Regions from separate parts of the Homo sapiens genome. Here all the other regions are linked to region 3. Evidence: fine-mapped expression QTL. A gene starts in region 3. Each other region holds a variant in brackets. All regions are shown on one strand. Distances are between the middles of the regions.

Region 1 (8,183 bases), 23 kb before region 3:
GAGTTTTGCAATTCCTGATGAGTAATGGAAAGGCTGGAGTGTGTGCTGTCTTTAAGATGTGATTTGATTGTAATAACATTCAAAATACCATCAACTTTCATGTATAATGCTAAATACTGGGCACTTACTATGTGCCAGGCACATTTAAGGTTGACAACAGCCAGAGGCGGTCAATAGCACGATGGCTGTTTGCCTTTGACAGAGGAGGAGCACTGAGGCACAGGAAGGTGGGTACCGTTGGCCACGGGTCCCCTGCCTGGGAGGCTGGGCAGGTTGTCACACCAGGGAGTCTGGCGGGATCCCTGGTTGGCGTCTCATGCATCAGCTTCCATCAGAGCATCCCTGCCGCCCTGGGTCCTGCTACCCCTAGTCCCTTCCTCTGCTCCTGCCTGGGGAGATTCCCTAAGCAGTAACGTAAGATCCTCCTTGCACGACTTGATGGAAACAGGGAAAGTATCCCCATGCTGGGCCAGCATAACGATTTCTGAGCATCCACGCTATTTGAGGGTCTTTCATGTCGGCTATTCCAACTTCATGACACTCCTGCGAGGATGCGTGTATCCTCCTCATTCTGGAAGATGAAGAAGTGTGCTCAGCTGTCTAAGGAGGCTGTGTGGGGCATCAGAGACCATGCATTTCCTCAGGGGGTTGCAGAGTGTGCTGTGTGGTTTCACCTGGACCCTGAGCGTCCAGCCTACTCTTCCTATGACTTTGGATGAATTCCTGATTGAATAGTCTACCTGGCCTGCTTGGAAATCTGACCAGCCTCTCTCACTTTAATACCCATGTAGGTTGCTGTTGGGAATTGCATTTGTGCGGCCCACAGAGTGCCTGGTGATGTGGTTGTACCTGCTGCTATCAGTGGTCAATTCTGTGTGCTGAGGCCCACAAAGAAGTCACATTTCTTTCTCTGAAGATGATAAAAGCGGAGGCATCTCTCAATCTGGAAGGGGCTAGCTGGGCATGAAGGTGGTGGCAGAGGCTCCCCTAGACCCCGGTTTGCACCGTTCCTCTGGCACTGTGGGACAGAAGTGGACTTGCTGGAAGCCAGGAGATCACATGAATGTTAATGATCACCTTGTTGTGGTCTTTGCCCTAGAGTGACAGCCCGTGCTTCAAAGAGCATGAATATACGGAGTTTGGGAAATGGATGGATGGCTGGGAGACCAGGAGGAAAAGGATTCCAGGTAATAACAACGGTTCGTTCATCGAAGTGCAGCTGACACTGCAAAGTTAAAAACGCAGGCTGTGGCAAAGCCAGTGTCCGTTTTGGGTCAGCTTTAACATGGGGCCCTGGAATGCTCTGTAATCTTGGATGTCCTTATCTGAACATCAGGCTCTAAGTCAGGAAGGGGCAGCGTGAGCCCGGGTCACTGACGTCCCACCAGGCACAAAGGGTGAGAAGCACGTTGTCGGGAAAATGAAAACCCTGGTGAGGTCTGCGGATGGAAAAAAGAGTGGATTCTCACTGAGCAATGTGGCAGGCATTAGGCAGCGTGCATCTTCTGGGTCCTTACTACAGTCCTCTGGAGTAGGTCTCTTTATCCCCGTTTAACCGCCATGGAAACAGATTCCTGGACTCAGCCCAGGGCACACTGCTAGCAAGATAAGCTGGGGACTGGGCCAGGGTCTGTCCTCAACACTGTACCCGCTGTCTTTTACGATTTTATGCAATTTTTATTCATTGCTATTACTCAGTCTCAATCAAAATATACCTTCTGAAGTTGAAGAAAAGCAAACAAATCCAGGCATTAGGTTGATAATTGGATTTTTACTTGCCACTATCTCAAGTATTACAGAAATATTTGATATTTCTAGTTTTCTAACTTTCTACAGTACTTGAAGCAGTATTAGTTTCTAACAAATCTGGACATTTTAAGGTGAGTTAATATCTGGCAGTAAATAACCAAGAACTCAATAGTGGCAGACTTGACTTCAAGACTCTGAAGGCTTTGGTAGATGCAGGCAGGTGTCTGACCAGTGGTGGGGCTGGAGGCTGGAGGGTGCTGTGTCAGTTCCTGAGCTTGAGAGGACAATGAACACAGTGTCTGCAGGAGAACCAGCTCTGCTTACTACCTGCTGAGCTTGGTGAGGTGCTTTCTACATCGCACACTCAGTCTAAGCTTTATGGAAGCTAACGGCATCCCTAATTTACAGTTGAGAAAATGAGATTCTCTACTGTAAGAGGTAAATAATTTGCCAAGGACAGTCATAGGAAATGATCCATTTGGAACCAGAATCAGGTCTTCCTGGATCCCAGCCTGTGCATTTTCTCTTCTGGCTAGAACTGAGGATTTTCGTTGGGGAATGGTGGTCACATGTGGCCAGGTTATGAGAGATCCTACAGTCATATTAGCTAAGAACCGCCCTGAACAGTTTTTTCTGTGATGGACGGAATGGCCCCTGCTGTGGGTCAGGTGCATGTGGGGTGCACTGCCTCGCATGCAGCATCTGCTGTGTTGGCCCTAACGAGACTGCTCTTGTCCTCTGTGTTGCGCAGGTCACGACTGGTGTGTCCTCAGGCTGGGGATCCAAGGAGTCATCCGGGGCTTCGACGTGGACGTTTCTTACTTCACGGGAGATTACGCTCCTCGAGTGTCCATTCAAGCAGCAAACTTGGAAGAAGGTGCGTTAGGAACCACTGTCCCCAAAATGAGAATTATGGGTCACATGGCTCCTCTGGCCAGCCACAGCCCCACAACTGCTCACTTTCCCTACCACCCAGACAGCTTCAGGCGCTTGACTAAGGCTACTTTACTGTAACGGGGCTGTAGGACCAGGACTCCTAGTAGAGCGCTCTGTGGTTTTTGATTTGTGGCTTAATAGTGTTAACAGCCAGATATAGATTTTATCATTCCCACGGTCCTTCAGCTTCACGCAGAGGCAGGCCATCATCCCTGGAACGTGGGTGAGCAGGTTGCTGGTGGGCGGGAGGGAGTGGTTTGTGCCTCAGATGACCCGGGTGATGTGGACCCAGGTCTGGGACAGCTGTGGGGTGAGCAGCACCAGCCCTGCTTTGGGCTGTCCCAGTGTGTGTGATGGGGGAGCTGCTATGGCATTTTAGGCAAGGGTTCCTATCTGCATCTTGGAATGCTGGACCTATGAATCCTGCAGGCTCTATAAATGAGACGTATTCTGTGAAAGGGCCATATACACAGAGCAGACCTCAGGTGCTGAAGAAGCCAAGAAACCAAAGAAAGAGGCTGACAAATCCAGTCTGTTGGTAACGGGTATTTTATTGGGGGAACTTACGGACAGAAGCGTGGCCTTGGGCAGCAGCGAGATGGGTAAATCTCTGCACTGTTACTGCCCGGACTCAGGGCTCACATGCTGTAGGGAAAGGGTCTGCGTGCTCCAGCGGGACAACTGAAGGCAGCCTCCAGAACAGGGAAGAGGGCGGTGTGCGTCACAGCCTCTGATTTGTGCGATAATATCAAGGTTGACATGTTCTGGACTAAGGACAGTAAATCAAGTTGGAAGCAGGACGTGTTCACAGGATTGAGGCTAATCAGACATTGACATGGCAGATTCGCATCCAAGATGGAGTCACTTTGTCTCCACAGACTTTCTGTATTTTTATTCCTTTGTTACCATCTGATGTTGACTTTAGCATTAATTAAAAAAAATATACAATTATGTGTGTGTTTATACATGTACTTAGGGAAGATAAGTCAATGTGGGTTGGCAAGTTTACACTGAACATGCTATGTGCACAGCGCTGCATGAGGCTCTGTGGACACGAACGGGCCCTGCTCCCTGAAGATGGCTGGGGCACCTGAACAGGAAATGATGCTACAAGAGATGCTACTCTAAAAGCGGAAATGACCAGTGACAAACGAGTAAGATTGTTT[C/T]GGCAAGCCCCTCAACTGCCCATGAGTGCTTCTATTTCTGAATTGCCCCAGTATCAATTCTAAGGATGCCACTGGGAGAGGTGGTGTTTCTGGAATTGACCTTGTAATAGTCCAACTTTGAAAACTCTAGCGATGTGATAAACTTGTTGAAGTTTGAGCTAACTTGGAGATGACATTTACTGTTTGACAAGCAAATGTAGTATCAAACATCTTGTACTATTTTTTGAAATGACTGTTAATATATTAAATATTGAGGAACTTCAACAAGTGTGTCTATTACTTTGATCATTTGATACTTCGAAATATCTTTAGTGTTATTTGCAAAGCGAGAATTACCATACAAACCACCAAGAGAGTAGATTCCCTTTGATTTTGAACCCTAATCTTAATCCTGAATGGTCATTCCAACTACAGATAAACTACCAGAAATCCCAGAAAGAGGAACCAGGACAGGAGCTGCAGCCACTCCTGAGGAGTTTGAAGCCATTGCTGAGGTACATCTCCCCCAAATGAATTGGGTCTTGTCACCAATTATTAGGAGAGTAGGGAAACTGCTCTGCACACCTGGCTGTGCAAGGCGATTCTTTGGGACGCCCAGCCCTGATGCTCCCCACATCATTTGCTTACCCACTGTGGCCTTGCAAACGTCTCAGTGGTTCATCAACCTGGGAAGAGTGAGCATCATGGCCCAAAGGCTTCTCAAAGGGTTCCACCAGCACCCATCTGCAAATGGCTGCTGGCCCCGATAAGCACACATACAGAAACTGATAGTAAGCGTTTAAACACTTTTTATACCAACTTGATGTAACTTGAAGTAACGTTTGTGTTTGGAGAATTTAATAAAAGAAACGGGGGAAAAAAATAAATAGGGCTTGTGTTTTGGTACATTCTTGTTTTTTTAATGTTTATTTAGTAATAGTTTGTATTGTTTTTTACAGAAATGTTGATCCATAACAGACAGGAAAGTAAATAACAGGAACAGTAAACAGGGCCGTTAGTTTGAGAAGTGCTAACCTAGAGAAAATGGTTGCAAGGCTCAGGCCAGCAGATTTCCCCAGAGGTCATGGAGCATGGCAGTAGCCTTGGTTTTTATTTGAATGTTCACCTCACCACACCTCAAGGTGAAGACATTTGGAGGGGTCTGAGATCTTGTCCTTCATTTGCAAGCATCTGCCACCATCACCCACTGGCTGTTTTGATCAGTGAAAACAAAACAGGCCTTTATTCTGTTTTTTATTAAACATGGGGCTTGATATGTACTATTTTTATTAAAGTGTTTCATTAGGTATCCATCATTATTTATTTATTTGTTTGTTTATTTTTTGGGACGGAGTCTCGCTCTGTGGCCCAGGCTGGAGTGCAGGGGCGCGATCTCGGCTCACTGCAAGCTCCGCCTCCCAGGTTCACGCCATTCTCCTGCCTCAGCCTCCCGAGTAGCTGGGACTACAGGCGCCCGCCACCACGCCCGGCTAATTTTTTGTATTTCTAGTACAGACGGGGTTTCACCGTGTTAGCCAGGATGGTCTCGATCTCCTGACCTTGTGATCCGCCCGCCTCGGCCTCCCAAGGTGCTGGGATTACAGGCGTGAGCCACCGTGCCCGGCATCCATCATTAATTTTTATTCCAAAGTATCTCCACACCTTAAGTGCCACAGAGGCAATAGGATGACAGAATTTATTGTTTTCAAGAGCAATTGCTGACATTTCTATATTTATTGCTAGCTAAAATCCGACGACTGGAGTTACTTGGTTCCCATGACTGAGCTTAAGCCAGGAAACCCTGCTTCCGGCCACAACTATTTTCTTGTCAATTCCCAGCAGAGATGGACTCATATCAGACTCAACATTTTCCCAGGTAATCGTGACATGGACTTATCACCAGTTCCATGGCTTCTTTATTTTATGTTGACATGTTTATAAAATATAAAATGACTTGCTCTTTCCTTCTTGGTAATTGATCTCTCTAGCATTTCAGGATTGTAATTTCTCCTTTTTATGCTCTAGAAAATTCTTGTTTTAATCCACACATCAATAGGTGGTTATTGAAAAATTATCAAGTAAATTAGGATGTGGTGGAACTAAGTTGTATTAGGTTAGATAGATCCTAACTAGATTTCACAAGTATGTTATATTAGCAGCTGAAGTGGTATGTACAAATGACTCATTTTATTTTTTAATAGCTTTATTGTGATATAATTAACATGCAGTTCACCCATTTGAAGTGTACAATCAATGATGTATAGCATATGCATAGACACGTGCAACCATCACCATACCTTTAGAACATTTTTATCATCTCAGAAAGAAACCCCATATCCTTTAGCTATCATCCCTCATCTTCCCTATCCCAAAGCAACCACTAATTTGCTTTTTGTCTTGATAGTTTTGACTATTTTGGACATTTCATATAAGTAGGAATTATATAATATTGGTCTTTTGTGTCTGACTTTTTCCACTTAGTATAATGTTTTCAAGATTCATCCATGTTGTAACATGTATTAACACTTTCTTTCTTTTTGTGTAAGGCTAATATAGGTTGAGCATCTCAAATCTGAAAGCCCCAAAATTTGAAATGTTCCAAAATCCAAAACTTTTTGAGTGCTGACATGATGCTCAAAGGAAATGCTCACTGGAATATTTCAGATTTTGGATTTGGGACACTCTACCAGTAAGTATAATGCAAATATTTAAAAAAACTGAAATCCAAACACTTCTGGTCTCAAGCATTTCAGATAAGGGATACTCAACCACTACCACATTTTGTTTACCCGTTCATTAGTTGACAGACACTTGTTTCCATCTGCTGGCTATTTTGAACAATGCTGCTGTAAACATTTGTGTACAAGATTTTGTGTGGATATATGCTTTCTTTTGTTGAGTGTATGCCTAAGACTGGACTTTCTGGGTCATATGATAACTCTGTGTTTAACTGTTTGAAGAATTACTAGGCTTTTCCGAAAGTGCTGCACTATTTTACATTCTTAACAGCCACGTAAAGGAGTGCTGATTTCTCCCTGCCTTTCCCAGCACTCTCTGTCTTACTTTTTGTTTATAGTCATCCTAGTGGATGTGAGGTGGTGTCTCATTGTGGTTTTGATGTGCATTTCCCTGATGACTAATGAGGAGGAACATCTTTTCATATGTTTATTGGCCATTTGTATGTTTTATTTGGAAAAATTTCTCTTCAGATCTCTATTCACTTGTCTTAAATTTCAACAGGTTTTTGGGGGAACAGGTGGTGTTTGGTTACATGGATAAGTTCTTTAGTGGTGATTTCTGAGATTTTGGTGCACCCATCACCAGAGCAGTGTACACTGTATCCAATGTGTAGCCTGTTATCCCTCACCCCCCACCCTTCCCCACATTGTATCATTCTTATGTCTTTGCATCCTAATAGCTTAGCTCCCACTTATAACTGAGAACATATGATGTTTGCTTTTCCATTCCTGAACTACTTCATTTAGAATAATGGTCTCCAACTCCATCCAGGTTGCTGTGAATGCCATTATTTCATTCCTTTTTATGGCTGCATAGTATTCCATGGTATATGTATATATACCATATTTTCTTTTTTAAAATATTTTCAATTATGGGCACATAGTAGGTATATATATATTTATGGGGTACATGAAATGTTTTAACACAGGCATGCAATGAATAATAATCACATCATGGAGAATGAGGTATCCATCCCCAATCCATTGTGTATATATACCACTTTTAAAATCTATTCCTCTGTTAATGGGCACTTACTTTGATTTCATATTTTGGCTGTGACATTGTAAACAGTGTCACAGTAAACTTGGAAGTGCAGATATCTCTTCAATATATTGATTTACTTTCTTTTGGATATATACACAGTAGTGAGATTGCTGGATGAATCTATTGTTGTTCTATTTTTAGTTTTTTGAGGAGTTTTCATAGTTTTCCATAGTGAGTGTACTAATTTACATTCTCACCAATAGTGTACATGGGCTTCACTTTCTCCACATCCTCGCTAGCATCCACTATTCCCCCGTCTTTTTAAATAAAAGCGGTATTACTCTGCTCTCACGTTGCTATAAAGATACTACCTGAGACTGGGTAACTTACAAACAAAAGAGGTTTAATTAACTCACAGTTCTACATGACTGGGGAGGCCTCAGGAAACTTACAATCATGGCAGAAAGAGAAGGCGAAGCAAGGCATGTCTTACATGGCAGCAGGATCGAGAGAGAGAGAGAGAGACAGAGAGAGAGAGAGACAGAGACAGACAGACAGAGAGAGACAGAGAAAGGGGGAAGAGCCACTTTTAAACATCAGATCTCACAAGAACTCCCTATCAGAAGAACA
Region 2 (8,183 bases), 160 kb after region 3:
AACACATATATAAATATATATACACATATACACACACATACATATGAATATAAATGTATATATAAACATACGTATATATATATAGGTTGCATATATATAGGTTTATATATATGCATGTCTCTCTCTCTCTCTCTCTCTCTCTCTATATATATATATATATATACACACACACACACACACACACACATAAGAGAGTGGAAAAAATTTGGTTCTTGTAGCATTGTGGTGGATACCAGTTGTCGTATTAGGGTTTTTCAGAGAAATAAAACATATATATAAATATATATACAAACACACATATACACATGTATATATGAATATAAGTGTATATATATAAACATACGTATATATAGGTTGCATATATATAGGTTTATATATGCAACCTATATAGGTTTATATAGGAATATATATAGATACAGTACTTGGCATGTATCTCTCTCTCTCTCTCTATATATATATATAGATGTGTATATATATATGTGTGTGTATATCTATAGATATGTATAGATATAGATATCTATATATGAGCTTTATTAGGGGGATTGGCTCACAGGATTACAGAGGCTGAGAAGTCCCACGATAGGCCTTCTGCCAGCTGGAGAACCAGGGAAGCTGGTAGTGTCGCTCAGTCCAGGTCTGAAGGCCTTGGAACCAGGAGAATCTATGGTGTAATCTCAGTCCAAGGTTGAAGACCTGAGGAGGCCACTGGTGTCAGTTCCTGAGTTCAAATGCTGAAGAGCGTGGAGTTCTGATGTCCAAGGGCAGGAGAAGAAGAGTGTCTCAGCTCCAAAAGTGAGAGAAGTGAGCACATTCTCTTTCCTCTGCCTTTTTGTTCTATGTGGGCCTCAGTTGACTGCATGGTGCCCTCCCATACTGGGTGAAGGGGATCTTCCTCACCTAGTCCATTCAGACTCATGCACTAATATCCACTGGACACACCTTCACAGACACATCCAGAAATAATGCTTTGCTGCAGGGGTCCTCATCCCTTCGGCCACAGAGTGGTACTGGTCCCTGGCCAGGTAGGAACTGGGAACTGGTCCATGGCCAGTTAGGCACAGTAGCAGGTGAGCAGCAGGCAAGTGGGCATTCCCCTCTGAGCTCTGCTGCCTGTCACATCGGCAGCAGCATTCGATTCTCATAGGAGCACGAATCCTGTTGTGAACTGCGCATGTGAGGGGTCTGGGTTGCATGCTCCTTATGAGAATTTAACGAATGCCTGACCATCTGAGTTGGAACAGTTTAATCCCGAAACTAACCCCCCAGTTGGTCCATGGAAAAATTATCTTCCACACACTGGTGCCTTGTGCCAAAAATGTTGGGGACCACGGCTTTACCAGCTATCTGGGTATCCCTTAATCCAGTCAAGTTGACACCTAAACTTAACCATGACAGTTGTCAATTCGGTTCAGTGAATTTGCTTTCATAGTGAATGTAAGTTCCTTACAGTACTTGGCATGTATCAGTGCCTCAAAAAAAATGTCAGGTTATAATCTAAGAAAATAATCTGCTTGGGCAAGTAAGACATTATTCATGGGTAGCATAACTACAGAGCAACCTACCTCTGAGGGGTACAGAGAACACGTGCCACAGGATTGAGAGAAGTCTCCCATATGCATGGGCAGTTGGGAAGGTGTCATCAAGGAGGCAGCCTTGGTCTGAGAGTTGAAATGGGTGGAGTGGGCGGGAATAGCCATTGCAGATGAGCGTGGCTGTGCAATGCCTGGGCAGGAGGCCCTGGGGAAGACCAGTCTACTAGAGTAGAAAATTTGGGTAGAGAATGTCAAGAAGTAAGGAAGGAAAAGTAGGTTCTGGAGAAACTGGACATTGTTGCTTGTCAGTCTGAGGAATTTGAACTAGAGACAATGGGGATATATAGAAACCTTCTGAGTTTGGGATTTCTATGATCAAAAACCGTCTTTAAGGAAGAACAATCTGATGACAGTGTGCAGATTTTATCCATGTTCATCCAGAAAACAGCCTCTGCTGCAATTTATGACAGGCCTGCCATCAGCATTGCAGGGCCTGGGATAGGGGTGCAGTTGGAGACTCACAAGCTATATATTTTTTAACATTTAAAAGTTATAAACCAACCTGTTAATGACTACAACAAAAATTCTTAACATTTGTCCATAATCAGTATTTGTTCATAAAAACCAAATAAAAATATATGTAAAAGTATATGTTTTATGACTGAAGTTGGAAATATGAAATCATTCAAATTGTGGATTTGATTAGAATAATTTTCTTGCTCATATTTACTCTTTTGATCAATAGCTAAATTTTCACAAAATAAACTTGTAATGCCCTGTTCTCAAATTTTGTGTGGGTCATGCTTGACAAAAGTCTGTTCATATTTACTATTTTCAGTTTTAAATAATCTAAACAGGCTGCTCTCTGCATATTTTCTGTTACTATTTCCATTTTTTCTTTAAGCTGCATTTTTATAATTTCTATTTCTAGCAAAATACCAACTTTCATGCATTCTTCAGATGTGAAGCCCTTTGCAGGGAAAGCTTGCCAACCCATCCCTAATCTAAAGGATTAGAAAGGAAAATGTAGTTACATTCATAATAGGACATTTGAACATTTCACCAATAAAATATAAATTTAGATAAATTAAGTTTAAAAAATTAAGGTTATTTTTCATATTTTTCAATAGTACTATTTTTCTTTTAAAATAATTAAAGTTATTAAAATTAAAAGGCAAAATTTAATTAATGAGTATTCAAAAATCAAAATTATTCCAATAAAGTAAAATTTAAAATTTAATTTTTACAAAATTTAATTAAATACCTTTATAAAAATGAATGCATTTCCTAATGCTAGTGTTTAATGTGTATCTAGTTTTGGTTATAAAAGATCATTATCACACTTGATGAATGCTACACCTAGAATCCGTGTTATAATTCCCTCATGGTGAATTTAGACCTACATAGACAGATTGAAGCGTCATATGAATTGCTTATATTACAGAATATTACAGAATTGCCCTCAGCCCCCATGCACAGCCGTTGCTAATGCAATGCTAATTAATAACCTGAACAAGCCTCAGCAGGAGCTCAGCTTCAGGCTCTCCAAGGGAGTGTGTGGCAGGTGAGCGGCCTGAACCCCGTGCAGCTCGGGTCCTGGCTCCAGTCTCTGACGTGGCAGGTGCAGAGCTCGCACCTTCAGGGCACTCAGGTGCGCTGCCTTTGTTTGGAGGATAAACAGTAGAGGTGTGGGTCCTGCTTCCCTGGGCCTACACAGCAGAGCAGCCTCCAATGCTCTGCTGACCCCTGGGACTCAGGCTCTCTGTGCGCTGGGATACGGTTATTTTCCTGGTGCTTGTTCTCTGCAGGGCCGGCCCTGACCCCCATCTCTCGCAAGAATGTGAGTTAACTCTAATTTTAAATGACCTTTTCATCTCCATCTGGCTTAGCACCACAAATTGCTATTCTGAGTTTTAATCTGTGCCGTTTGGCCACGGCTGGCATGGATTGTCGAAGGGAGGAGGAGGCACTGCCCTCTGGTTGGCTGGCTAACATCTCTTGAGAA[A/G]TTTCTCAGAAAGGGCTTGCTGTATAGACCTTCACCAGGACTGAATAACAAGAGAGGGTCAGTCCTCCTGTTCCAGTTCAGCCTTTTTCGCCTTAGTGAGGTAATTGCAGGCAGCTCTAGAGAGACAGGGCAAGAATATTTGGTTTCCAGAGAAAATAACAGAACAGCTCCCAGTGATTCCCTAAATGGAATTTGGAATTATGACTCTCCCTGGCTCATTGAAGCATTGCTAGCTCTGATTCAGGGCTGCTCTGGCAAGCTGCATGTAATATTTCAATGAATGCTACATTGCATTGCAGTGAGCAAAATGCCAGAAAGGTTTCCTTTGCGAGGGTAAACCAGCCTTTTGTCTTCGTTGCTTATATTCTAGAACCTCACCACAAAATAAAAATAGTTAATCATTCTGGATGTTTAGAAATGTTAGATCAGAAAGACCAAGATAGAAGTCTAATTTAATGTAAGCCTAGGCTGAGCTGCTCTGTGTACATGTCCACTTGTATGAATGGAAAAGATTTTGAAACAATTCACATTCTGACAAAACGCCAATCGTGGTATGAAGCATGTCATTTTTGTCTGTTTGTCTCTTCCTCTCGCCTCTCTTTTACCCTTCAGTTGTTGCCTGCATTTCTAACGTTCAGTGAGGCACTGTACTGAGCTGCTCGTGTCTTATGAAATGAACTGAGTTTTTGTGCTAACAGAGGCTACATTAGTCCCGCTAGAGACATAATTGAATATGCAGAGGTTTTGCTTGTGTTTATGATTTGCATGAGGTCAGAGTGCCATGGGCACCTGAAACTAACAGATCATCCAATGACATCAGTTCTGGCCTTTGGACAGCCCCTTGTCCCCCAATTCAAGTAGGACAGAGGCCTTGGGTTGGTCTTTCTGAAGTCCTTGAGTGTCATTGTTCATGGCTGTACCTGTGGGGAGAAGATGAGTTTGGGGCCTCAGCAAGGGGAAGGCTGTGGACACTCCACTCTTGATCTAGCTGTAGTGCAGCAGGGTGGGAAGGAGTGACCTGGAGTCAGAGGACGTGGTTTCAGGTCCGGCTCTATGCCTGGCTGCATGAACTTCATCAACCAGCTTAGAGTCTCCGAGCCTCAGTTTACTCATCTGAAAAAGAGGCTGTCTTTTCCCTAAGATTCTTCAACAGATTAGTAAGTCTACCTTAGCTAAAGGCCTTGTTGTACTAAACAACCCTCGATATATATGCTAGATATGAAACCGCCTTTGCAAAATTATGACAGCAAGAGAAATCTGACATGGTTGACTCCATCTTGCTTCTGACCTCTAAGCTGTCCTTGGTCATTCCTGGGTGTAGGCCAAACTAACTTTGGGAGGAATTTAGTTTCTAGTTTAACCTTAAAGCAAGGATAATAATAGCCCTTCCCAAATCTAAATCACCTTTGTAAAACCAATAAAAGGCCATAAGGTAAGGATTATGAGAGGGGCCTGAACTCTGCTAAGATGTAGGCATAGTTTCCATAATCCCTTACTGCTCAGGGGTCATGTGGCCAGAGGTCACAAGAATTGTGACTTTCCCAGTTGCTCTTATAGATGACATTACTATCATAGAACCTAAGATTGGTGTTTGGAGCTTTCAGGCTGATTCCCCCTAAACTTGTGATTTATGACTCAGCTGATCCTGTAGCCCCATCCAGAGGTGGAATGAGCGCATGGGGGTGTGGACTGTTCTTCACACCCTGATGATTTCATCCCCAATCATTCGGCAGCACCCATCCCTTAGCCCCCTGCCCACCAAATTGTCCATAAAAATTCCAAGCTCTGAGCCTTCAGGGAGACTGATTTGAGTGTTAACTCAGTTCTCCCACGTGGGCCAGCCTCCTGTCAATTCAATTCTTTCTCTACTGCAATGGTGCAGTCCCAGTGAATTGCTTTTGTCTATGCAGTGGGCAGGAAGAACCCATTGGGAGATTAGAGACCAAGGTGGGATCTAGGGAGCCTTGCTTTTTCCTTAGAAGAAGACATTGCACAGGGATGAACAATGCGTCCTCAGCGCAAGAGGCAGTGCTCAGTCCTATTCTGGCATCATGAGGGCTCTGGCTCTGTTTCCAGAGGGCTCAGGAGGGTACCCACATGCCAGTGAGACCCTAGCCCCAGCCAGTGTCTACGTTCTTGACACTGTCATGAGAAAGAATTCAGGGGCGAGTCAGAATGAGGCCAAAGGCAAGAAGCTTTTATTGCAAAGTGAAGCACACACTTGAGAGTGAAGTGCAGGCTGGCTAGGGAGAGTGAGTCGTGCACTAGAGAGATTGGGTTTCTAGTTTTATGGGATCTTTTAATGAGGGAGTGGAATAATCATGAGGTCTTCTAGGAAAAAGGTGGAGATTTCTTAGAATTCAGGTGCCACTCATTTCCATACTAAATATGGCCATGCTCCGATCTCTCTTGGTGCCGGAGGGTGTGTGATTTAGGATGTTAATGAGCATATAATTAGGTTGGGGTAGGGCATGGGTCAAACCAAATGCCATGTTGGACTCAGCCCATTTCAGCCGCTTAGCCCCTTCCTGTTTGTTAGGGCCCCATCAGCCCAGGCTCACCCTTGTCCTGGTAGCTGATTTAACAGCTCTCATTTCTTGCTGCTGTGAAAGATCGCTGCTTGATATCTTCCTGTGTCGCCTATGACCACCCAACATTCCTGTCTCACACCTGTTCTCTCAAAGGATGGCTGGGCAAGGGACCAGGAGTGTTGGGCACGCAGCGTTCATCCTGGGACAGGGGCTTGACCTGGATCCCGCTGAGGTCCCAGCTGGAAAGTGCTGGCCTGGCCCATCCCTGTTCTCTGCCATGCAGCTGTGCCAGACGGCCGTTTAGGGCCAAAAACAGAATTGCAGAAACTCTGTGAGTGTTGAGGAAATAAGACGGATTCCTACAGTGTGATTTGAAAAAATCCTTTTGAATTCTAGCATGGTGTTAAAAGGAAAACCCAGCCATGAATGATTTGTGAATCTGGCAGCCCTCGAAACCAGGATAGGTTCAGAGGGTCTCCGGCCTGCCTCATGATGGAAGATTTATGGACAGAAAAAGGACAGTGAGGTGAAAAAGGAAGTGAGGTCAGAAACAGCTGGATTGGTTACAGCTCAGGGTTTGTCTTATTGGAACACGGTTTGAACAGTCAGCTGCCTAGGATTTGCCAAAACTCGGTGATGGGCACAAGAGTAGGTCACAGTCTGCTTACACATCCAGCTAGGTGACAGTTCACCCAGTACAGAAAGTCCCTTTGGCTGAGTTTAAAATATGTAAAGTGGTAGCTTTAGGATCAACCTAACAGTGGCTACATGTAGAAAATGAAAGTCATGGCTCCAAACGCACGACAGCCTGCTTTCCCCTTCAGTGTGTGTTGATGGACTGGGAGTGCCCGGATACCAGGGCTCACCGTGCCTGTCCCAGTCAGGGAATGTGACTTCACTTTGGCCCCTCCTGTGCACAAACCCCCACCCTGTGTTCAGGTTTACCAGGACCCCTGAATTCTGAAAGGTGGATCCTACTTAGGAGAGGACAGCTTGGCACCAAGTGCTTTGGACTCTGGGGCAGACATTTCTCTCAGATCTGACGCTTGGCCCCTACCCACCTGCCTCTGTCCTCCAGGTAACCTTTTCTGCAGGCCTCGTCCTAGGGTGGCAGAGCCAGGCCTGTGGGGTGGGGGCTCTGCTGCATGGCCTGACCTGATCAGCCATTTCTTGGAGCCTGTTCTGTGTTGGTGCTGGGGAGAGAGCAGCAGGAATGCAAACCTGCTCAGATGTATTTTTCCTTTGAGATCACATCTGCTGTATTTGCTGTGAGCAAAGTTCATAAAAGGAAGGTGATGAAAAAGCGATATGGAATAAACATTCTTTTTTCTATAGGGTATTTCAGAAAAGAAGGCCATTAACATTTGAAGGTGGCTCAATTTACACATTTTTAATATGTAAAACACCTAGTGACTAAAGTGAGATATACTTATTTAAAAGTGTAAGTACTTTCAAAACATTTTACATATTAAGATAGCAAGACTAGGCCAGGTGTGGTGGCTCATACCTGTAATCCCAGCACTTTGGGAGGCCAAGGCAGGCAGATCCCCTGTGGTTGGGAGTTCAAGAACAGCCTGACTAATATGGAGAAACCCTGTCTCTACTAAAAAAAAATACAAAATTAGAAGGGCGTGGTGGCACATGCCTGTAATCCCAGCTACTTGGGAGGCCGAGGCAGGAGAATCGCTTGAACCTGGGAGGCAGAGGTTGCAGTGAGCTGAGATTGCACCATTGCACTCCAGCCTGGGCAACAAGAGTGAAAAAAAAAAATAGCAAGACTCAAACATAAACTTTAAAAATCTGAATTTTATAAAATCAGTAATTTGGCTTCACAATCTCAACTATTGAAGTTCTTCTATGTTTAATATTGTGGCTACTTAGCTGAGTAACTGAATATTGAGGAATGGCCCATTATCTCAAACTTGTGAGTTAAAAAATGCCAGAATATCACCCAAAATTGTAACCATATTACTGAGAGTTGGATTTGAATGAGTAGATGCTGTTCCAGGTTTGAAAGTAGTTATAAGAATGAGAACATGAATTCAGTACCCTGTGGGGATTGTGGGTCTGGAGGGTGTTTGGTGGGGCTGTCCTGGAGAATGATGATGCCGTTGT
Region 3 (8,183 bases):
TTATGGTATCTTTAATCCACAGTTCTCTGCATGAATGGTTTAAAATAACTTACTTATTTTTGTGAGGGATGCTTTAGTTAAAACTAGATAACAAACAGTAAATCCACTTAAGCAGACACCCAAAACTGCAACAGGTCATGAATCTACCACTGTCAAACACTCAGGATACCTCTGGTACATACAATATGATGACTGTAATGGAAATGAGGGAGCATGGCAGTATCCACTTATAGCAATAATATAGTAGGTTATATCAAATACACAAAGCTTAATATACACATACATATGTATGTATATCAGACAAATAGAAATAGCAGCTCTAATGTTCTCTACTTGCATCCTTTGTGTCCGTATGCACCCCAGGGGCATGTTCGCCCACCCTGGAGACTACCGTTTTAAGAGATGGGCCACAAAGGGGGCATGTGAGCCACAGTCTCCTCTTTTCCAGGGTTCTTGATTAGCAGCTCCTCCTCTGTTGATCCTAAAGAGCTCCAGTAGAAGTTCTCTCTTCTCAAAGAGAGTGGGACCTTTCCCTCAAGGTCCTCTAACCCCACTGAGCCCACGATTCCTATGATATTCCAAAGAGAGAAGAATCTCAGGACCATATACTCTCACCTGAAGATGACTCAGAAATCCCCAAATACACGTGTGTGGCTGGTGCCCAGCGCTAGCTAACATAAAACTCAGTATTTCCTTTTGATTGTCATGTTAAAAAATATGTCATAGGAAAATATTTTCCAGCTTCATAATAATTTCAGATGAGCCACATAGCAGTCTGCAAGTAATTAAATCTGCAATTGAGGAAGCTTATCAAATACATTCAGATTTCAAAGTGAGAACGCTATACATGCAAATTGAAATGCGCCAGCCCCTTCACATATGGCGGACTGCTTCTGAGTCCTCTGAAAAAGAAATGTCTATTTCATGAGACAATCTGAGCCTCACAAACCGGTTTGTTCCTTCCCTCACATACTTCATACCTTTGCTTTTGCTCAGGAAGAGCAGGGACTTGTTTTTTGCTGGGTTTTTGATCTTATTAAAAAAGCATGATATCCTATACGCCAAACTGAGTGCAAATGCGGGCAGAAAATCACGCTGTGTTTTGCTCCAACAGGCAATGCTCCTGACAGCTGTAAAGTGGATGGGTGCATCCTGACAACTCAGGAAGAAGAAGCCGTGATCAGGCAAAAGTGGATTCTCCCGGCCCACAAGTGGAAACCACTGCTTCCAGTGACCAAGGTTCGTGTGGCATGTTATTCGGATCCAGCACTCAGACTGTGCTATTTCCCTAAGATTCTCTTTTGAAGGATTAGGATACGCTCCAAAGTTTCTGCTCAGTTTAATGGTAAAACGAATGAGGTTTAAAACCCCTATCTGCAAACTTTAAGAAGAAAGGCTCTATTTCTCTCCACTTTTGTATTTCCAAATTTTATTAGAACAAAATTGTTAAATGTTCAGAATACATACGTGGAAACATGTCTCTGCATCATGTTTAACTTTGTAGAAGGGGCGACTAGCACATTTAAAGCTCTAATGGCGTGTCCACCTGCAGGATGGATGCTCTGAGATATTCCACAAGTGTCTTCTTTGATTTAGAAAGAGGGTCAGGCTAGAGGTGAGAGCTGCTCCCATGTAAAGATAGGAAATAATCTCCGGGAGAGACCAAGATGGTCTCTTCCTTCATTTTCTTATCAATTTGCTTATGTATAATCAACTATTAGAAACAACTGATGGGCATTTAGGTTGCCCATCAATTGTTTATTGGGGCCTGCTTATTCATGTATTATTTGGGCATCCTATCCCTACTAGCAGATTTTCATGGAAAGCCCAATTATCATCAATTAATAACTTATTTTAAAGCCCCTTCGGTTAAGTCTAAGCCAAAGGTTTGCCCGGGCCGTGGGCTCATTCGGCCACACATGTCCTGTTAACAGACTAGGACCTCTGCATCTGCTTGCTTTTCAGTTGTCTCCCAACCAAAGTCATCTGTTCGATAGCCTGACCCTAGAGCTCCAAGATGTCATCACTCACGCCAGGCTCACCATCGTCCCCGACGGGGGAGTGAGCCGCCTTCGGCTCCGGGGCTTCCCCAGCTCCATCTGCCTCCTGAGGCCCCGGGAGAAGCCCATGTTGAAGTTCTCGGTGAGCTTCAAAGCAAACCCTTAACACACACAAAGCCCCGGTGTCGGACACACAGCAGTAATTTCCCAGTCATAGTCTTCTTTTCAAATGTTTTGAACACCTGGTGATTTAATAAAGTGGTCGTCTCACAAATTGATCTCTGTATTTAATGTTGCTATGAGGCATTTAGTAGCTTACATACTGGCTATGGCTGTGACTGGTGGTCTCTACGGAACTACTTTTTTTGAACATTATAAGATATTAATACTCATAATATCAATATCTGTACCTTCGGTGTGGACTTCCAGCCGTAACATGTAGCCTACTGACTGTCTAGAATCACTCAAGGGGACTGGCCTATCTTTACCCAGAGTAGGAACGATTCTTCCAAAGACCCCCTCTCCCTTTGAATCATTCCCCAATGAGGATGCGTTCTGAATGGCACGCGCCTGACACCGCACACCAGCGGCTATAGCGCGGTTCCTCACGGCCTCCCAGTGGCTCTGCACACCTCCTCCTCTGGTGGAAAAGCTCAAATTCCCCACTCTGGGCCAGGAGTCCTGGAAGACACTGGGGCTGAACCGGTCAAATTCAACCTAAGATCAAAGAAACAGAGGCTCAAAAAATGTGAAGCAGATCCCAGCACCCATCCAATGTTGATTGTCAAGATGGTCCTGGTCCCTCCCTAACCCTCCTCTCTACCGCTTCTACAGAGGAAGGCGGCGAGTGTAGGGGGAGGAGGCACGGTGGGCGTCCCGGGGCGCTCAGCACAATCATGCTAGCCGCCTCCTCCTCCTCTTTTCCTGAGCTCTGCCGCCACGCCCCTCACCTGCCCGGGCTCCCCGTTGCCCCCTCACCTGTCTCCGCCCTGTGCCGCGCCTCACCTGCTTGGGCTCCCCATTACCCAATCACCTGTCCCTGCCCCGTGCCGCCTGCTCACCTGCCCGGGTTCCCCGTCGCCCCGTCTCCTGCCCCGGCCCCGAGCCCCTCGCCCTGGCGGCCAGGCGGTCACAATCGCCCAGGGTCGCGTCAACACGCAGCCTCCGCCCGCCTGGCAGCCCCGTCCCGTCCCCGTCCAGCCCCCGTCCCGTCCCCGTCCCGTCCCCGTCCTGCGCCAGCGGCTGGAGCGGACCTCCCGTCGGCGGTGCCCGGGCCTGGGCGCGGCTCTGCAGGCGTCGCTGCCCGCGCTGCCGCAGCCTCTCGGCCCCGGCGAGCGAGGAGCGGGGCGCGGCTATGGGAACCCGCGGGCCCTCCGCGCCGGTGGACACCACGCCCGCCAAGACCATCGTGGTGTACCGCAACGGGGACCCGTTCTACGTGGGCAAGAAGTTCGTGCTGTCGCGGCGCCGCGCGGCCACCTTCGAGGCGCTGCTGGAGCAGCTCACGGAGCAGGTGGACGTCCCGTTCGGCGTGCGCCGCCTCTTCACGCCCACGCGTGGGCACCGGGTGCTGGGGCTGGACGCGCTGCAGGCGGGCGGCAAGTACGTGGCGGCGGGCCGCGAGCGCTTCAAGGAGCTCGAGTAAGTGCGCCCGCGCCCCCCACGCGCCCTGCGCCCCTCCCCGCCCTCTTGGGTCTGAGCGTGGTCAGGGCCGTGCCCCCCAGGTGTCCTCCCCAGGCTTCCCTCCCGGCTCGGGCGCCCATCTTTCGGCGTGGATCCAGCGCAGCCGGCGTCGGGCCGCCCCAGGCCACGTGGTTTCCTGGGGGCGAAGCCGAGGCAGCCCCGCCCCCAGGGTCCCTTCCTATGGGGCAGGGCGGGCCCTGGCCGGCAGCGATTCAGGACCGCCCCAGAGACGGCCAGGAGGGCGTGGGGGAGGGGCGTGGGGCAGAAACAGGGGTGTGGAGGAGGGCGTGGGGGAGGGGTGTGGAGAGGGGCGTGGGGGGCGTGGGGGAGGGGTGTGGAGAGGGGCGTGGGGGAGGGGTGTGGAGAGGGGCATGGGGGAGGGGTGTGGAGAGGGGCGTGGGGGGCGTGGGGAGGAGTGTAGGGGAGGGGGAGGGGGGAGGGGCGTGGGGGAGGGGCATGGGGCAGAAACGGGTGTGGAGGAGGGCATGGGGGAGGGGTGTGGAGAGGGGCGTGGGGGGCGTGGGGGAGGGGTGTGGAGAGGGGCGTGGGGGAGGGGTGTGGAGAGGGGCATGGGGGAGGGGTGTGGAGAGGGGCGTGGGGGGCGTGGGGAGGAGTGTAGGGGAGGGGGAGGGGGGAGGGGCGTGGGGGGGAGGGGCGTGGGGGGCAGGGCCTGGGAATGGGGCGGGTTGGGCAGTTCCCATTTGAAATCGCTCAGGGTGACCCCTCTCACTCTGTGTCCATCACTTGGTCCTGCGTGCATTTTCAAGCTTGCCTTTAATTAAACTATTGCCCTCCCACGGTTTGTGTCTGTAATCCCATTATTGCAGCCTGTGTCTGCTTTCTGTGATCTCAGCTGCTTTTCTCTCCTGATTCTCTGTTTCCTTGTAGGTTTACTTATTTTTTGACTGTGAACTACTCCTTTTGTATAGCTTTGTGTGGGGACATTCTTCAGGGCTGAGATAAAAGTGAGATTCCCCAGAGAGAATTTCCATTTTCTTCTTTCAAATGCTCTCCGTTCAAAAATGCTCTGAATTAAATCAGCAGCTTGAGTTTTGTTTGTTGTTTTTTGAAAAAGTAGTAGGATTTAGTATGAGGGCTGGTGTATGGTTCCAAATTCTTAGTGGCATTTGCAAAGATGTGAATTTACCATTCAGTTGTTTCTGAAGAAAAGTCGTAAGTCACAGGCATCACAGTTGCTAAGAGGTAGAATCTGGATTAGCATATTTCAGATTGAAATTTATTACTATGATAATCCTGTTATGTATTAGAATTCATGGACAAAATTATATTCCTTTATAGCCATGTGATTTGTGATTATTTTTTCCAAGCTAGTCAGATGGTGTGAATATCTAGAACTGACATCCTACCCAGGATCCAGTGTTCAGTGCTGATTTACAATTAAAGAATATATCTCTACAAAAACTGCCTTTAAAGTCCCTTTCGATACATATATAATGAAAAGTATTTAATTTTATCCCAAGACATTTTCTTGTAAAATTGGCCTGTGTTTTACATGTTAGCAAATGAGGAAGGAAACGTATCAAGCACCTGCCACGAAGCCTGGAGTGTGCCTGGGAGATGTTACTCTTTCCCCTTGCTGTGGGGCTGGATATTTTCTAACCAGACCGTGTTGTACCTCCAGTTTTGTAGAGAGAGTCTCGAGTCTCATGGTTTATTTAAAATGTTTTGGACATGTAGCAAAAATATTGAGAAAAAATTGAGATGTTTTTCTTCCCAGTGCTCTTACTGTTTATTTTACTTTTTGGGAGGAAAGAAATGTCACCCACTGCAGAGGGAGGGGAGTTGGGGTCCGTGTGGCAGACAGCCTGGGTTATTTTGCATTATCTATTATCCATGCATCTTCACTGCTGTAAAATAGATGAGCCATGTCTGCATGTGAAGTTCAACATAGAGAGCACGTGGGGTTCCTTTTCTTCAGTTTTTTTTAGGTCAGTGAGTCTGAAATTGGAATTCAGACTTTGGTGAACAAAGCTCTGAAAAATGTGGCTGGATTTTCACTGGTATTAGTAAAGTAAACTAGCTCTTGGAAATTTATATTCTGTAATTGCTAAGCCATTGAGCAGTTCAATTAATTTTCACTGGAAAATAATATTCTAATTGTGTCACCAGCAAATGAACTTTGAAGTGAAGCCTGTTGATATATTAGTGATCCGGGAGCTCCCCTCATAATAGTGGTTTCAAGATGGTGCATTAAAAAGACAAACACCAACAAATCTATCCAATATCCAGCCATTACTCAGACATTTCCTGCATTTTCTGGAAGAAAATAATTTGAGACCCAAAGGACATAATTTTTTTCTTTATAAAACAAAATATTATAAGATAATAATTACTTTTCAAAACAATGACGTGTCATATAAAGCCTAGAATTAATATTTCTTTTGTGGAGAAAGCCACATTTACAACAAAATCTAAATCAGGGTGTTGTGTATGTGTGCACGCATGTGTGTGCGTGTGTGTGTGTATGTGTTTAGGGGAGGGACCCCAAAGAATTTGAATGCTTAGGAATATTACCCTGTTTACTTTAGAGCTTGTTGCTGAGACATGAATGTGAACATGCTATTTGAATCAAAGTCTCCTCGTTCTTCCTCAACCCAGCCTTTTCCTCTCATCTCCCTGGCCACCCATTTGTACCTGGGAACTAGCCGCAGATGACAGGAGAAAGAGGAAAAGTGGGTGGAGAGGAAGTTGTGATAGATGACAGGAATGTTGGCCTCAGAGCCAGAGACTGGTGGAATTTAATCCTGGCTTTGTCTACCTGAGTAACGTTCAGCAAGTGAAATAACCTCTCCAAGACTTGGTTTCCTCATCCATAAAGCAGGCTGGCTTCACATCCACTCTGCGGTACGGTTGGGAGAATGGAATGAATGCAGTAGGGTAAGGTGCCTGGCACGGATTCTCATGGGTGGTTTCTTCCCTTCCTTTGTTCTCTGGAAGTAGCCGGGAGGGAGCTTGCACCTCATGGTCCCATCACTGCTTCACAGACCTACTCCCCGCCCACCTCAGAGCAAGCCAAGCCCACCCAGCAGGCTTCTCTATGTGCCTGAGTTAAAGACCTCAGGTCATGGGCTGTCTGAGGAACTATTTGTCCTTTCTTTCTGTTTTTATAAGTTCTTGGGAGTGCAACATTGAAATAATAAATAGTATTTTGTGTTTTTGTAGGATCTTTTTATGCTTTTTTTCTGTGTTAAATTTTATTTTTTGGTTCCATGTAATGAAAATCAGATGTCTCATTTGGGAGATTAATGTTCATAAACAAATATGGAATTTGGGAATTTAGAACAAATTTAAAATATTTATTTGGAAAACAGGAAGACTAGACTAAGCTAGTGAAGAGTGCATACAAGGGCCTCTAAGCAAGTGGAGAGGCTCAGGCTGAACTCAGCCAGCAGCCATGTTTTGTTCAGTTCATACAATTTTCAAAGATTTGAGTTGGCTGCAACATTTTATAATTGGGAGAACTCATGTAATAATATGAACTTTTGGTCTCCCTTGGAAAAAATAGAGGATTTGATTGTTCAGAGGACTTGGTTGTAGCTGCGTGCATCTCCGCTATCTGGACCTGTGAGGCCCTGTCCGCCTCAGAAGGGAAAGGATGGTCCCACCAGCCACAGCCCCCACCAGTCCCTGAGACCACCCTTGGCGAGTGCCATCATTTACTTGACCAGTTTCTGTGGGGATCTGCATCCGTGACTCTTTATTGAACACTTAGTTATTTCTTCCCCTTCTATTTACCAGTCTAAGTTGACCCTTCTCTGAATATTGCTGAAACTATCAAAAACAATAACAATCTCAAATACATATTTTTTTAATCAGGAAGAAACCTTAGTATCAGATATAAATTTGAAGGTATTATTTATTACCCATGAAAACATTTTATTTTTGAGGAATATGGAAGTCTCAAAAGTCCCCAACAGTAAAAAAAATTGTGTTAGTAGGGCTCAGACACATTTTATGCTGGTGACTCTTTTCCAGTTTGCAGTTTTGGCAAAAGGAGAACAGTGCTGAATTTCTGTGAGCAGGAGGGAGCGGTGGGGGTGCAGAGGAGCTGGAGGAGAGTCTGGGTTTTTGTTCCGACCTTAGCCTGTCATGGGAACATTGATGAGCTCGCAGTTCTGGGCCTTCAGCGACCTGGTTAAAGAATGCTGTTGAATTAGATGATTTCTCAGGTTTCTCTTTAATAAAATTACGTGAGGGAAAGCAATGTCACTTAAGAGACACTTTCAAGGGGCAGTGCCAGTGGTACCCAGTGTGAAAACTGTCCTACAGCAGCATTGCTATTGTATTCTGATGTGGATTCTAACACCGAGAAAATTTTAGATCCTAGTTCCAAATTGCTGTGGGGTTGTATCTATTAAGCCGGAAAAGGACTCGTTTCTAAGGAGTCTGGAACTTTCTATGTAAATATCTTCCTTCTAATGATGTTTTCTTCTTTCTTCTTTTGCAGTTATATTCATATAGTTCCCCGAAAACCTGCAA

Direction of the effects. Positions count from the first base shown, and alleles are read on the strand shown. Sizes are in standard deviations (SD) of each study's normalised expression. Not every link is listed here.
In carriers of allele A in region 2, the expression in subcutaneous fat of the gene that starts at base 3,178 in region 3 tends to be higher than with G alone (moderate effect, 0.55 SD a copy in FUSION).

The links. PIP is the estimated chance that this variant, and not a neighbour inherited with it, causes the effect.
Region 1: its variant is fine-mapped to the expression of DCDC2C in tibial nerve (GTEx, PIP above 0.99).
Region 2: its variant is fine-mapped to the expression of DCDC2C in subcutaneous fat (FUSION, PIP 0.95).

Annotation. Positions count from the first base shown.
Region 1 is chr2:3,677,369-3,685,551 of GRCh38, forward strand. ALLC (allantoicase) reads left to right here. Exons shown (of 12, transcript NM_018436.4): 4 at 1,100-1,187; 5 at 2,501-2,626; 6 at 4,266-4,345; 7 at 5,574-5,706. Among named protein-coding and RNA genes, the nearest start is that of DCDC2C, 22 kb to the right of the region's middle. The variant C/T (reference allele first, on the strand shown) is at 3,852.
Region 2 is chr2:3,861,918-3,870,100 of GRCh38, forward strand. No RefSeq gene overlaps it. Among named protein-coding and RNA genes, the nearest start is that of LINC01304, 110 kb to the right of the region's middle. RefSeq lists a silencer at 7,604-7,812. The variant A/G (reference allele first, on the strand shown) is at 3,538.
Region 3 is chr2:3,700,398-3,708,580 of GRCh38, forward strand. It overlaps DCDC2C (doublecortin domain containing 2C), which reads left to right and starts at 3,178. Exons shown (of 11, transcript NM_001287444.2): 1 at 3,178-3,641; 2 at 8,152-8,183. The coding sequence starts at 3,355. ALLC (allantoicase) reads left to right here. Exons shown (of 12, transcript NM_018436.4): 11 at 1,115-1,239; 12 at 1,966-2,274. The coding sequence ends at 2,166. LOC105373393 (a long non-coding RNA gene) reads right to left here and starts at 3,103. Exons shown (of 3, transcript XR_922732.1): 1 at 3,062-3,103; 2 at 2,411-2,717; 3 at 2,163-2,242.